3 linked regions of the Homo sapiens genome follow. The protein of the gene in region 3 interacts with the protein of the main gene of each other region in a pairwise test. Each region holds a gene or a part of one and is shown on either strand. Other genes may lie near its edges.

Region 1 (3,657 bases), on a different chromosome or scaffold from region 3:
GGAATCAAGGATATATTTTATGTCCCTTTGGAAAGGCAGTGGTTCCCAACCAGGGATGATTTTGACCAACAGGGTACATTTGGCCATAGATATTTGGAGACATTTTTAGTTTTCACATCTGGAGCGGGTGAGGAATGCTACCGGAAACTAGCGAGTAGAAGCCAGCGATGCTCCTAAATACCCTAAAATGCACAAGACAGCCTCCACAACAAATAATTGCCTGGCCTGAAATGGGACCAGTCTGGTCACTTTGTGTCTGGTAAGATAAAGTTATTTAAAATAAAAAGTACTTATCCTTAAAAAGACATTTGGTGGAAAAATTTGAGAATTATCTCAGAGTAGGAGATTAACTCAGTAGCATGAGGCTTACCGCCAAATTGCTTCTTCCAGTTGCAGGGGATCTTACATCTCTGGGTCTTCATGGTTTGCTTGCACTCAGCTCCAGTCCGAGTGCCCTCCCGTGTGCCCAGCCCACAGTCTCCACTGGTGGGCACACACACACTCCACTGCCATTCTCCACAGTCAGACTTCTTCACTTTTTTTTCTGAATGAAAGGAGGAAAACCTAATCAACATACAGAAAACTCCTTAACTTCCAGATATAACCAAGTTCATTCCTGAGCACCTTAATTGCAGGATCTGTGTTTTTTAATCTGTATCCTTATTGTCTAATGAATAGTAGAAACATGATGAATATTAACCAAATTATTGAACCAATGAATGATCAAGAGAAGAGAGAAAGAAAACTGAGAAAAGAGCTAAAACTAATATTAATTGAACTCCCTCTTACTATGTGCCAGAGACTGTGCTAAGTGATTTAGTGGCATCTCCTTTTAGAAGCAAACATTTCTATAAAAGAAGAGATGGTCAAAAATATAGTTCTCCTAAAAATGAAGAAAATATTCTATTAGAAATAACAGTTGTCAGCTGGGCAAAGTGGCTCATGCCTGTAATCCCAGCACTTTGGGAGGTCGAAGCAGGCAGATCACAAGGTCAAAAGATCGAGACCATCCTGGCTAACATGGTGAAACCCCAACTCTACTAAAAATACAAAAATTAGCTGGGCGTGGTGGTGCATGCCTGCAGCCCCAGCTACTCGGGAAGCTGAGGCAGGAGAATCACTTGAACCGGGAGACAGAGGATACAGTGAGTTGAGATCGCACCACTGCACTCCAACCTGGTGACAGAGCGAGACTCCAACTCAAAAAAAAAAAAAAAGAAATAACAGTTGTCAAATGAGCCATTTCAGTGTAAGTTGTTGTTCCTTTCTCTGCCTTGTAGAAGGAATGACATCATACAAATATGGTGCATCACAGATTTAAACAGACTGTCAGTTCCACAGCCTACTTATGACTTTGGGAGTGGCATAGAGAAGGTGCTTTATCTTCTCTGTGCTTGTTTCCTCCTCTGTAAATCTGAAATTAAGGAGAAAAACAAGTTGCAGTGCATTTTTTTTTTTTTGAGGTAGAGAGGTAAATAATAAAGCACCTGATTACCGGTCAATGTTCTATACATAGTAGCTGCTAATTTGATCATTATATTAATGATCATCATCGTCATGCAATCCAAGACTTACAATGGGAGAAAAATAAGACAGGATATTTCTTAGGTTCCTCTAAGTAATTATTTTTGAAAAGGGAAGATTGAAGGAATAGAGGAATAGGAAGGGAGAGAGGCAGAGTAGAAGAGAGGAAGGAAAAGCAGGTAATTAGACTAGATGGACATTAATCAATGAAGCATCTTGCCTTCAGAACCCTACTGCTTACCTGGTTTCTCTTTCTTCCCTGCTTCAGCAGTATCCACAGCTGCCAGTATGAAAATGAATGCCAAGAAGGCAGCTGCAAATTTTCGACGCTGCTGCTGGTACTGTTGAGCCTGCATTCTAGGAATAAACAGAGAAAGAGAAGAAGGTGGCATTAACCTAAGTCAGAAAGGAAGATTCATTGAACCCTTGATGAAAAGGCTCCACTTTCCATTTCTGGAATGTTAGATTTCAGGAAGATTCATATCAATTATCTTGGGTAGAATTTTATCTATTCTTACCAACAGCCATTGAAATAAGTGCTCTTCTGCAATCAATCACGTATTCACTGACAAAACGCAACAGTTCTTCACTTAAGACTTCACAACCATTTGCTAAGTATGACTCAGAAATTATGGAAGCAAAAGAACTTTGAAGGCATGCATTTGAACACAGTCCTACTGTCTTGCTGATAGCATCACTTGGTAATATCGACAACTACAGCCATCTTCAAAATTCCTGACAATATTAGAAACAACCACAGCAATGATACTGCTGTACACAAGACCAATTTGAGTAGACATGATGAATGAATTACCTATACAAGTATATGTTTACTGTTTCTATTTAGACGCATACACAACAACCAACATCTCTGATCTTTTTAAAATCATTGTCATAATCATCACTATCATCTTATTATTCCATTATTTATTGATCTAACAAAGAGTGAATCCCAGAAGTAGAGCTAGCACACCTGTGATACATATCAAACACAATGATAAATTCGCATGTGCTAAAAATCCTCTAATCTTAGGATATGGTGAAGTCTTTACACTCACTCATAATAGGAAATGCTCACATTTGATGTGAATCAAAAATCCCAAGATATCATTAGAAAGACTCTCCTAGAACTTGAAGCCACCTGTGACAGCCTAGTGTCAATATGGTCACTTGGCCAAAACACCCTTGAGAAAGTTTCAGTCCAAGCTCCAGGACGACCCACTTCCCAATGGCTACACCATATCATGGCTGCAGCAACTTGCCTGGCAGTTATTGAGCTCCATCTGCTGTGTTAGTGGTGTGTTATACTTCACATAAAAATGGTTGTAATGTCCTATGATCATAGGCTGATAATTTTTTTTCCAGAGGTAGTACTAGATTAGTTTAGGTGTTTCAACATTCTCTTTAGTGTGAACAATAAAACGTTTCATGTATATAAGGGGTTGAGATTATTCTTTTCTCTAATTTATTTTCCTCATTGAAAAATATCTGAGATGATATCCTTGCCCGTGAATTTTTCTCCTTTTCTGTGGCATTGTATATGCTGTCTCTTATTAGTGTTTTTTTAAATTTATTTATTTTTAATTTTACTTTAAGTTCCAAGATACATGTGCAGAATGTGCAGGTTTGTTACACAGGTATACATGTGCCATGATGGTTTGCTGCACTTATTGACTGGTCCTCTAAGTTCCCTCCCCTTACCCCACACCCCTCAACAGGTCCTGGTGTGTGATGTTCCCCTCCCTGTGTCCATGTCTTCTCAATGTTCAACTCCCAGTTATGAGTGAGAACATGCGGTGTTTGGTTTCCTGTTCCTGTGTTAGTTTGCTGTGGATGATGGCCTCCAGCTTCACTCATGTCCCTGCAAAGGACATGATCTCATTCCTTGTTATGGTTGCCTAGTATTCCATTGTATATATGTACCAAATTTTCTTTATCCAGTCTATCATTGATAAGCTTTTGGGTTGGTTCAATGGCTTTGCTATGTAATAGTGCTGCAATAAACCTATGTGTGCCTGTGTCTTTATATTAAAATAATTCATATTCCTTTGGGTATATACTCAGTAATGGGATGGCTGGATCAAATGGTATTTCTGGTTCTAGATCCTCAAGGAATCACCACACCGTTTTCCA
Region 2 (3,657 bases), on a different chromosome or scaffold from region 3:
ATTGTTTAATTAAAGAAATTGCAGTTACCAGTGTCTCAATAGCACTCCCATAATCACCTGTGAGGGAAAGGAAAGGGTTTGAAGTCAAACAAATTTTGTTTTCAAAACACCATCAAACCACTTGGGATAAGAGTGATAAGGCATTTTACAAAAGTACTGTGCTATAAAATAACTATGCAAGACAATGTCTTCTTTCAGTGTTTCACCATTTGCAAAAGCCTTTCATGCTCATGATATTGACTCAACTTATTATACGTGTGTGAAGCACATTATCATTTTGCAAATATAAGAATAAATAAGGTGTCATGAGGCCCCTGAACCATTAAATGTCAAGGGTAAGACTTAAATCTATACCAAATAACTTAAAATTTGGATTTTCCCCACTACACTGTGACACACAACTTTTTTCAATGCTTTTTAAATAAATCGTAGGTAATGATTTGGGAATATAAAAAGAACTACTACATGTAAATGACCTATCTTCTAGATTGTACTTACATTTTTAGGTCATTCCTAATAACATAAATAAGAAATATTAATACAAGAAATACACAAACCAGCACTGGCATCAGACACAGCTCTCGAAATAGCACTGCTTGAGATTGCCCTATTTCTATTCATGATTTCTTCAAATTCAGCTTCACTCAATGGCGTTCTTGCAGTATCCATTTCCCTGTAAAACAAAAACATAAACCTTAACTCATACTCAACAGATTTCCTCAGTTAGTCACAACAGTGTATAGCAATTCATACTAGCTGCTTCTGACATGTGCTTTAGAGATAGTAGTTACTTTTCCATATTGAAGCATGCTACTTTTCCAACAAAGAGAACAAATCTAAAAATTCTCCTATACCAGTATCTTTCAGCTAAAACAGGGTAGCAGCTTAAACACCTCATCTTCTTGGAAGGCAGAAATAACATATTTATATACCTACAATCTAATATTTACAGTCATTGTTCCTATCTTTTATCATCAAGTACTTTCACAGATACACACTAACTTACCTTCCAGGGGGGCCATAGTCACCCCTATCATATGGTGGAGGTCGCCCATATGGATCTGTTGGTGGTGGACCTCGGCTATCTGATGTAGGCATGCCACTGTTAGTTGGTGGAGGAAAGAAAGCTGGGTTCACATGCGGAGCTGGCGGTGGGGCACCTGGAGGTGGTCCAGGAAGATGCGGAGGAGGAGCTAGTGTAAGGGGTGGCCCAAGTGGACCGGGTGGACGAGGTGGAAAGGGGCCTGGAGGTGGAGGTGGTCCCTGTTGTGGAGGTGGTGGGCCAGGAGGGGGGCCGTAGCCTGGAACTGGAGGTGGAGGGCCAGGAGGAAGTGGACCCAATGGAGGCTGCCCAAAAGGTTGTCCAGGAAAAAGAACTGGTGGTGGAGGGCGATCTCCTCGATTAGGAGGCCCAGCTAGAGGAGGAGGCAGAACCTGACCAGGAGGTGGAGGACCTGGTGGACCAGGTGGGCCTGGAGGACCTAAGGGTGGACGTGGTGGAGTCTGTCCAGCTAAAAAACAAAGGAGAAAGAGAGAAAAAAAAACACTTCACTAATAAGATATTTTAACTTTTATATGCCAAGATTATACTTTAAACGCATAGAGCATACACCAAGTCTTTGTCTTTAAATTAAACCCGTATGGTAAATGTTACACTACCAACTACAATGAAGTATATCCTTACAAATTTAACTAGCTCAATTTATGCTTAAGAAAAATTATTGAAACGAAAACTTTAATAAAAAAATATTACAATGCCTAGAGATATTTTCCATCTTTCCGTGTACACACACTTCTTACAGTGAAATCACCCACCTTATATTCTACTCTGATGCCAAGCTAGAAAGTGAAACAAGGAAAAATGATCTTGAAAGGATTTTTTTAAGAGGTAAGAAAGTAAGACGGATGTAAATATTCTATATATAAGTCAAGCAAGTTTGGAGAAAAATAAAGACCTTTTAGGCCAAAAATGGGTATTTCCTCTATGCTGTGCCCCATATGCCATGGAATCCTAGTTTCCAGGAACAAAGGCCGAGTTCCTTTAACAAGATGCTTGATCAAATTTCCTGGATTCCAAAAATAGCATAACAAGGAGAGTAAGTCACATTAATAATGCATTACTTGAAAAAGAGAGAAAAGGAAAAGAGGTATTAGGTAGACATGTTTTATCCATGGTAATTTAAGAAAAGTTTTACCTGGAAAAGGTGGGGGTGGCCCTCCTGGTCCTGCTGGCCCAGGAAATCTGTCCCCACCAGGAACAGCCCCTGGAAAACGGCCCCGTCCTCTACCACCTTGTGGAAATGCTGCACGGGAACTGCCTCCTGGAGGACCAGCTTTACCTTCCCCAGACATTTGTCCTGATTGTGTAGCTGCAAATATCCAAATACTCATAAATAGCACTTATTAAAAATAGTTTTCTGAAATGTAACCACTATTATTAAAAACAACTCTATTTCTAATATATTAACTTGCAAATGCCTTGTGCCTATGCAAACTACATAAGAAAGTATGGTTTAGGAAAACATTCACATCTATTTGGGTACTTTTAAAGACTCAAAATATCCAGGTTTAAATATATTTTCCATAGGTAATCGTGAGTTACTTTCAAAATACCAGCACTCTGCAGCAGCCAAGACCGAAATTCTTCAACAGATATCTTAATTTCAGTATTACATCATTTAAATTTTGTAACACACTTCTTCAGTTAAGTCTTAAGTGCTAAAACATTAAAAGAAAAGGAACCACTTGAATTTCTGTTAATTACATAATCATCCATCTCATCTCTTTAAAGATAATGTACTTAAATGTATAATGACAAATCTTTTCTATATTCAGTTTACCAAGTGGTGAAAGGTCTTGTTGCCAAGCAGAAAAATCAATGAACATTTTCTGGTTATCAGTGATCTCTCCCCCACCATAATACACATCCACATAGCTCTCCTTTAATCTAAGAATTAGAATGTAGTTTCTTTCTGTATCTAAGATGGAAATAATAGGACAAGAATGGCAGGGCTATAGAACTTGCACATTGTTGTATAGTATTGGGTCTGTTACATCTGGAGAAAAATGGAACAGGAGTAGGTTTCTCGTACACAGGCCCACAGTCATAACCAGTGATTAAATCTAATTCAAAGCATGGACTTTGTGAAATGGAGTTCCTAGTGAGCTAGTATTAAGATGACTTCTCTAGTATAACACCTAACAAATGCACTGGTTAAAATGTACATATTTTAATAAAAGCCTCTGAGGACTGCTTACTTTTCCTGGACTGCATTTCAAATTGACTCAGGAACTGTTTATTGCATGGAGTTACAACAGGATTCTGACCATGAAGTTCTCTTTTAGGTAACAGATCCATTAACTTTTTTGAAGATGCTTCAGATCCAACACCAACAAGGGCAAACCTAAAAAGTGTTTAAGGGGTGAGGATACAAAGTAAAAAGAGATCAATATTATTACTGTTATTCTTCTGTAAAAAGGTCTTAATCTGCTTTTATCTAAAACAACAGCTGGGCACAGTGGCTCATGCCTGTAATCCCAGCTGCTTAGAAGGTTGAGGCACGAGGATTGCTTGAGCCCAGGAGTTTGAGGCTACAGTAACCTATAATCACACTACTGCACTCCAGCCTGGGCAACACAGTGAGATCCTGTCTCTAA
Region 3 (3,657 bases):
CCAGTCCATGCAGTAAGAGAAATTGGGTAAGAGAACTCTAGAGATGCAGAATGCTTCCACAGCCCCATTCTGCAAATAGTAATTATTGAACCAGACCCTACTGCACAAGTAAGGAAGAGAATTACCAGGACCCCAAGGGACATATTCAAGTTCTCATCATAATTTTAAAAAGAATAACTTTAAGTCAAAATTTCCTAAAATTAGTAGCAATAACCTTATTTTAATGTATGATATGGTCTGAATGTTGGTATGTCCCCAACATTCATATGTTGGAACCTAACTCCCAATGCAGTACTATTAAGAAGTAGGGCTTTAGGAGGCTCCACACTCATGAATGAGATGACTGTCCTTATAAAGGAAGTTGAAGGGACTGCCTTACCCTTTCTGCATGTGAAGACGCAGCAAGAAGGCACTAGTTTTAAAGGAGACAGCAAGCCCTCATCGGACACTGAATCTGCTAACACCTTGATCTTGGACTTCTCAGTCTCTAGAACTATGAGTAATAAATTTCTGTTGTTTATAAATTACCCAGTCTAAGGTCGTTTGTTATAGCAAGTAATGAATTAAGAATGCATAAACATTGTTAAAGAGTTAAAACTCAAAGTGATAAATGTCCACTTACGTATATATATTAAGCAAAACTTAACCAGACGTCTAGCAGAGTTTTAGTAGGTCTATGGACTTCCTGATATTGTATACAGGATTGCGTGTATTTAGATCACAAGCCTATCAAAGACTCAAGGTTATTGACCCCCAAAACAAAACTCTATTAGAAGAACTGTTTCGTTTTGTTTTGTTTTGAGATGGAATCTCGCTCTATCATCCATGCTGGAGTACAGTGGTGCGATCTGGGTTCACTGCAACCTCTGCCTCCCGGAATCAAGCGATTCTCCTGCCTCAGCCTCCCGAGTTGCTGGGATTACAGGCATGCGCCACCATACCCAGCTAATTTTTTTGTATTTTTAGTAGAGACGGGGTTTTGCCCTGCTGACTGGGCTGGTCTCGAACTCCTGACCTCAGGGGATCCACCCGCCTCAGCCTCCCAAAGTGCTAGCATTACAGCCGTGAGCCACCGTGCCCAGCCCAGAAGAACTATTAATTGTACATGTTTAAGAACAATTTAGCAGTGAAGGACTTACCTGAAGTTCCTGTTGAAGTTGCTTGATTTCCATAATTTCCAAGTCACACTGCTTATCCAGAACTTCCAGCTCAGTCTTTTGAGTTTGCTTTTTGAGTCGGACATCCTGAAGTCTGCCTGAGATCTGCTGATGTTTGCCATTCTATAGGAAGATCATATAAATATATAGTAACATAAAATGCTAATAGAAAATGTTTCTACAAGGAGAATAATATTTTTAGTTAAATTTTAAAATCTCAGTTATCATTCATATTCATCCTGAAACAAATGCCTAAAACCAAGTGGAATGTGTTTCAGAGTTGTGTCTGTTAACTCGAGTTATTAGTGGGAAACACATCATTCTCAGAGTGCAAGAGCCCATATGTTAGTATGGGAAAGCAGAAACATAACACATTGAATTTTTTTCTGAATTCAGCATTAGACAATATTAATTAACAATATTAATATCAGAGACACTCTCAAAGAATGATGAAGAGGAATAAATGTTTGCATGTGATGCTCGGCATTACCTTCTCTGAACTTCTATTTCTACCCTAAATATGGCCATCTAATTTCCTCTAATTAAAACAGTGCCCAGGAGGAACGTTTTGGCAACAGTTCTGTTCTATACTAATATTCTTCTCCTTTTTTCCTCTTCTTCTGTGAAGAAATCAAACAAATAGCAGAGATTCTCAATGGGACCTAAGAAGAAGGGTGACATGGGGGGTTATGGGCTGAACTGTGTCCCCCAAAATTCATATGTTAAAGTCCCAAGCCCCAGTACCTCAGAATGTGACAATATTTGGAGACAGGGCCTTTAAAGAGGTGATTAAGGTTAAACAAAGTCATACAGGTGGACCCTAATCCAATCTAACTGGTGTCCTTATTAGAGGTGGAAATCTGAACACAAAAGGCACCAGAGATAAAATACACTCAGAGAAAACACCATATAAGGACACAATGAAAGATGGCCACCTGCAAGCCACCAAAAGAGGCCTCACAAGAAACTAAGCCTAACTAACCTTGGTCTTAGATCTTAGGAGCTGTGAAAAAATTAATTTCTGTTGTTTAAGCCACCTAGCCTATCGTATTTTGTTACAGCAGCCCTACCAAACTAATACAGTGGAGTGAGGGGAAATGACATCCTGGGTTAAAACTTACTGATGATGAAAAGTTTTACTGAAGACTGTTTCATATTTGAAATACATACACTGAAAGGAACATGTGTATCTCTGCTGGAGCTCACATTCTTATCCTCAACATGGGATACGTATAGGCTCTGGACCTTTCCAGACTCTGCACATTCACCTGTGTTACTGTGCTTCATGTGTTGCACCAGTTCTTGAGGGAAAAACAATCAATCTTAAGGTCTCTTCCCATTATATATAGTCAAGATGATATATATATATAAAAATAGTGCAAGAGAGTTAAAAGTTTTTTACAACTGTTTTGTAGTACTCTGGCATGATTAATACTTGTGGTATGTATGTCTATCCATTTGAAGGAATAAAATAATATATTTCTGACTAAAGATATTGTGATGATTAAAAAAATAATTTTTAATGTAATTCAAGTCATCAACCAAATAAAATGTTAGACTATGATCACACAAGATCTAAATCTGGCTCTACTACATGACTAGGTATGCATTTTTGTAAAACCCTACTATATGATCAGGGTAGGCTCATGGGATTCTAGGGTTGTGGCAGAATAGTGCCAGATCTTTTATACCTTCTCACCACACATTTCAAACAAAGTCTTTTAACAACTTGACCCTCTAACATCTGATTGGTAAAAACTGCTTAGTGGCCAGTATTAGCTAAGAACTACAATCCTGCAGAACTGGAACTGTAAGAGATCATTTAGGTCAGCAGTTTCAAATCAGTTGTCTTTTTAATAGTAGAATCTTTTTTTTTCCAAGCAAATCTTGAGTGAAACCCCAAGAAACATAAAGCACATAAATGTCAAGCTTCTCTGTTGTGAAGCGTGGGAAGAATTAGGGAGAGAAAATCACTGTTCTGCTGCCCGAGCTTCCCCTCTCCTGCCTCTGCTTAGTCCTCCTCAGACCATCTTACAGAGACCAATCTGAAAACTGAAAATCACTCAACTAACACAACTCTTTATTTCAGACAAGGGAAAAGTGAGGCACAGAGAAGGGAAATGTCTTGCCCAGGAGTACATGGTTCATCAGTGTCTGAACTGATGCTACAACATAATTCTCAGCATTTTGAGTCATTATCCTTTTCTCAGTAAACCATATTGTACAGTCTGTTTATATGAAAATGTGACTAATGACATTAAGACATAACTAATTCACGAGAGATTTTAAAACACAATTACATTTTTCTTTTTTTTTTTTTTGAGATGGCGTCTCACTCTGTTACCTAGGCTGGAGTGCAGTGGTGCGATCTTGGCTCACTGCAACCTCCACCTCCTGGGTTCAAGTGATTCTCCTGCCTCAGCCTCCCAAGTAGCTAGGATTACAGGCACCCACCACCACCCACCACGGCCAGCTAATTTTTGTTTGTTTGTTTGAGACG

What was found.
Region 1: the proteins of ITSN2 (region 3) and PTN interact in a two-hybrid assay, tested with the Homo sapiens proteins (one large-scale study listed by BioGRID and IntAct).
Region 2: the proteins of ITSN2 (region 3) and CPSF6 interact in a two-hybrid assay, tested with the Homo sapiens proteins (one large-scale study listed by BioGRID).

What each region holds. Positions count from the first base shown.
Region 1 is NC_000007.14:137,253,094-137,256,750, forward strand, and holds part of PTN (pleiotrophin isoform 1 precursor), read right to left. Parts: intron 1,882-3,657; 5' UTR 1,881-1,881; coding exon 1,766-1,880; intron 545-1,765; coding exon 371-544; intron 1-370.
Region 2 is NC_000012.12:69,256,444-69,260,100, reverse strand, and holds part of CPSF6 (cleavage and polyadenylation specificity factor subunit 6), read right to left. Parts: intron 3,405-3,657; coding exon 3,259-3,404; intron 2,370-3,258; coding exon 2,196-2,369; intron 2,067-2,195; coding exon of another isoform or gene 1,956-2,066; intron 1,512-1,955; coding exon 1,007-1,511; intron 674-1,006; coding exon 558-673; intron 58-557; coding exon 1-57. UniProt on the Homo sapiens protein: Component of the cleavage factor Im (CFIm) complex that functions as an activator of the pre-mRNA 3'-end cleavage and polyadenylation processing required for the maturation of pre-mRNA into functional mRNAs.
Region 3 is NC_000002.12:24,294,525-24,298,181, forward strand, and holds part of ITSN2 (intersectin-2), read right to left. Parts: intron 1,281-3,657; coding exon 1,140-1,280; intron 1-1,139.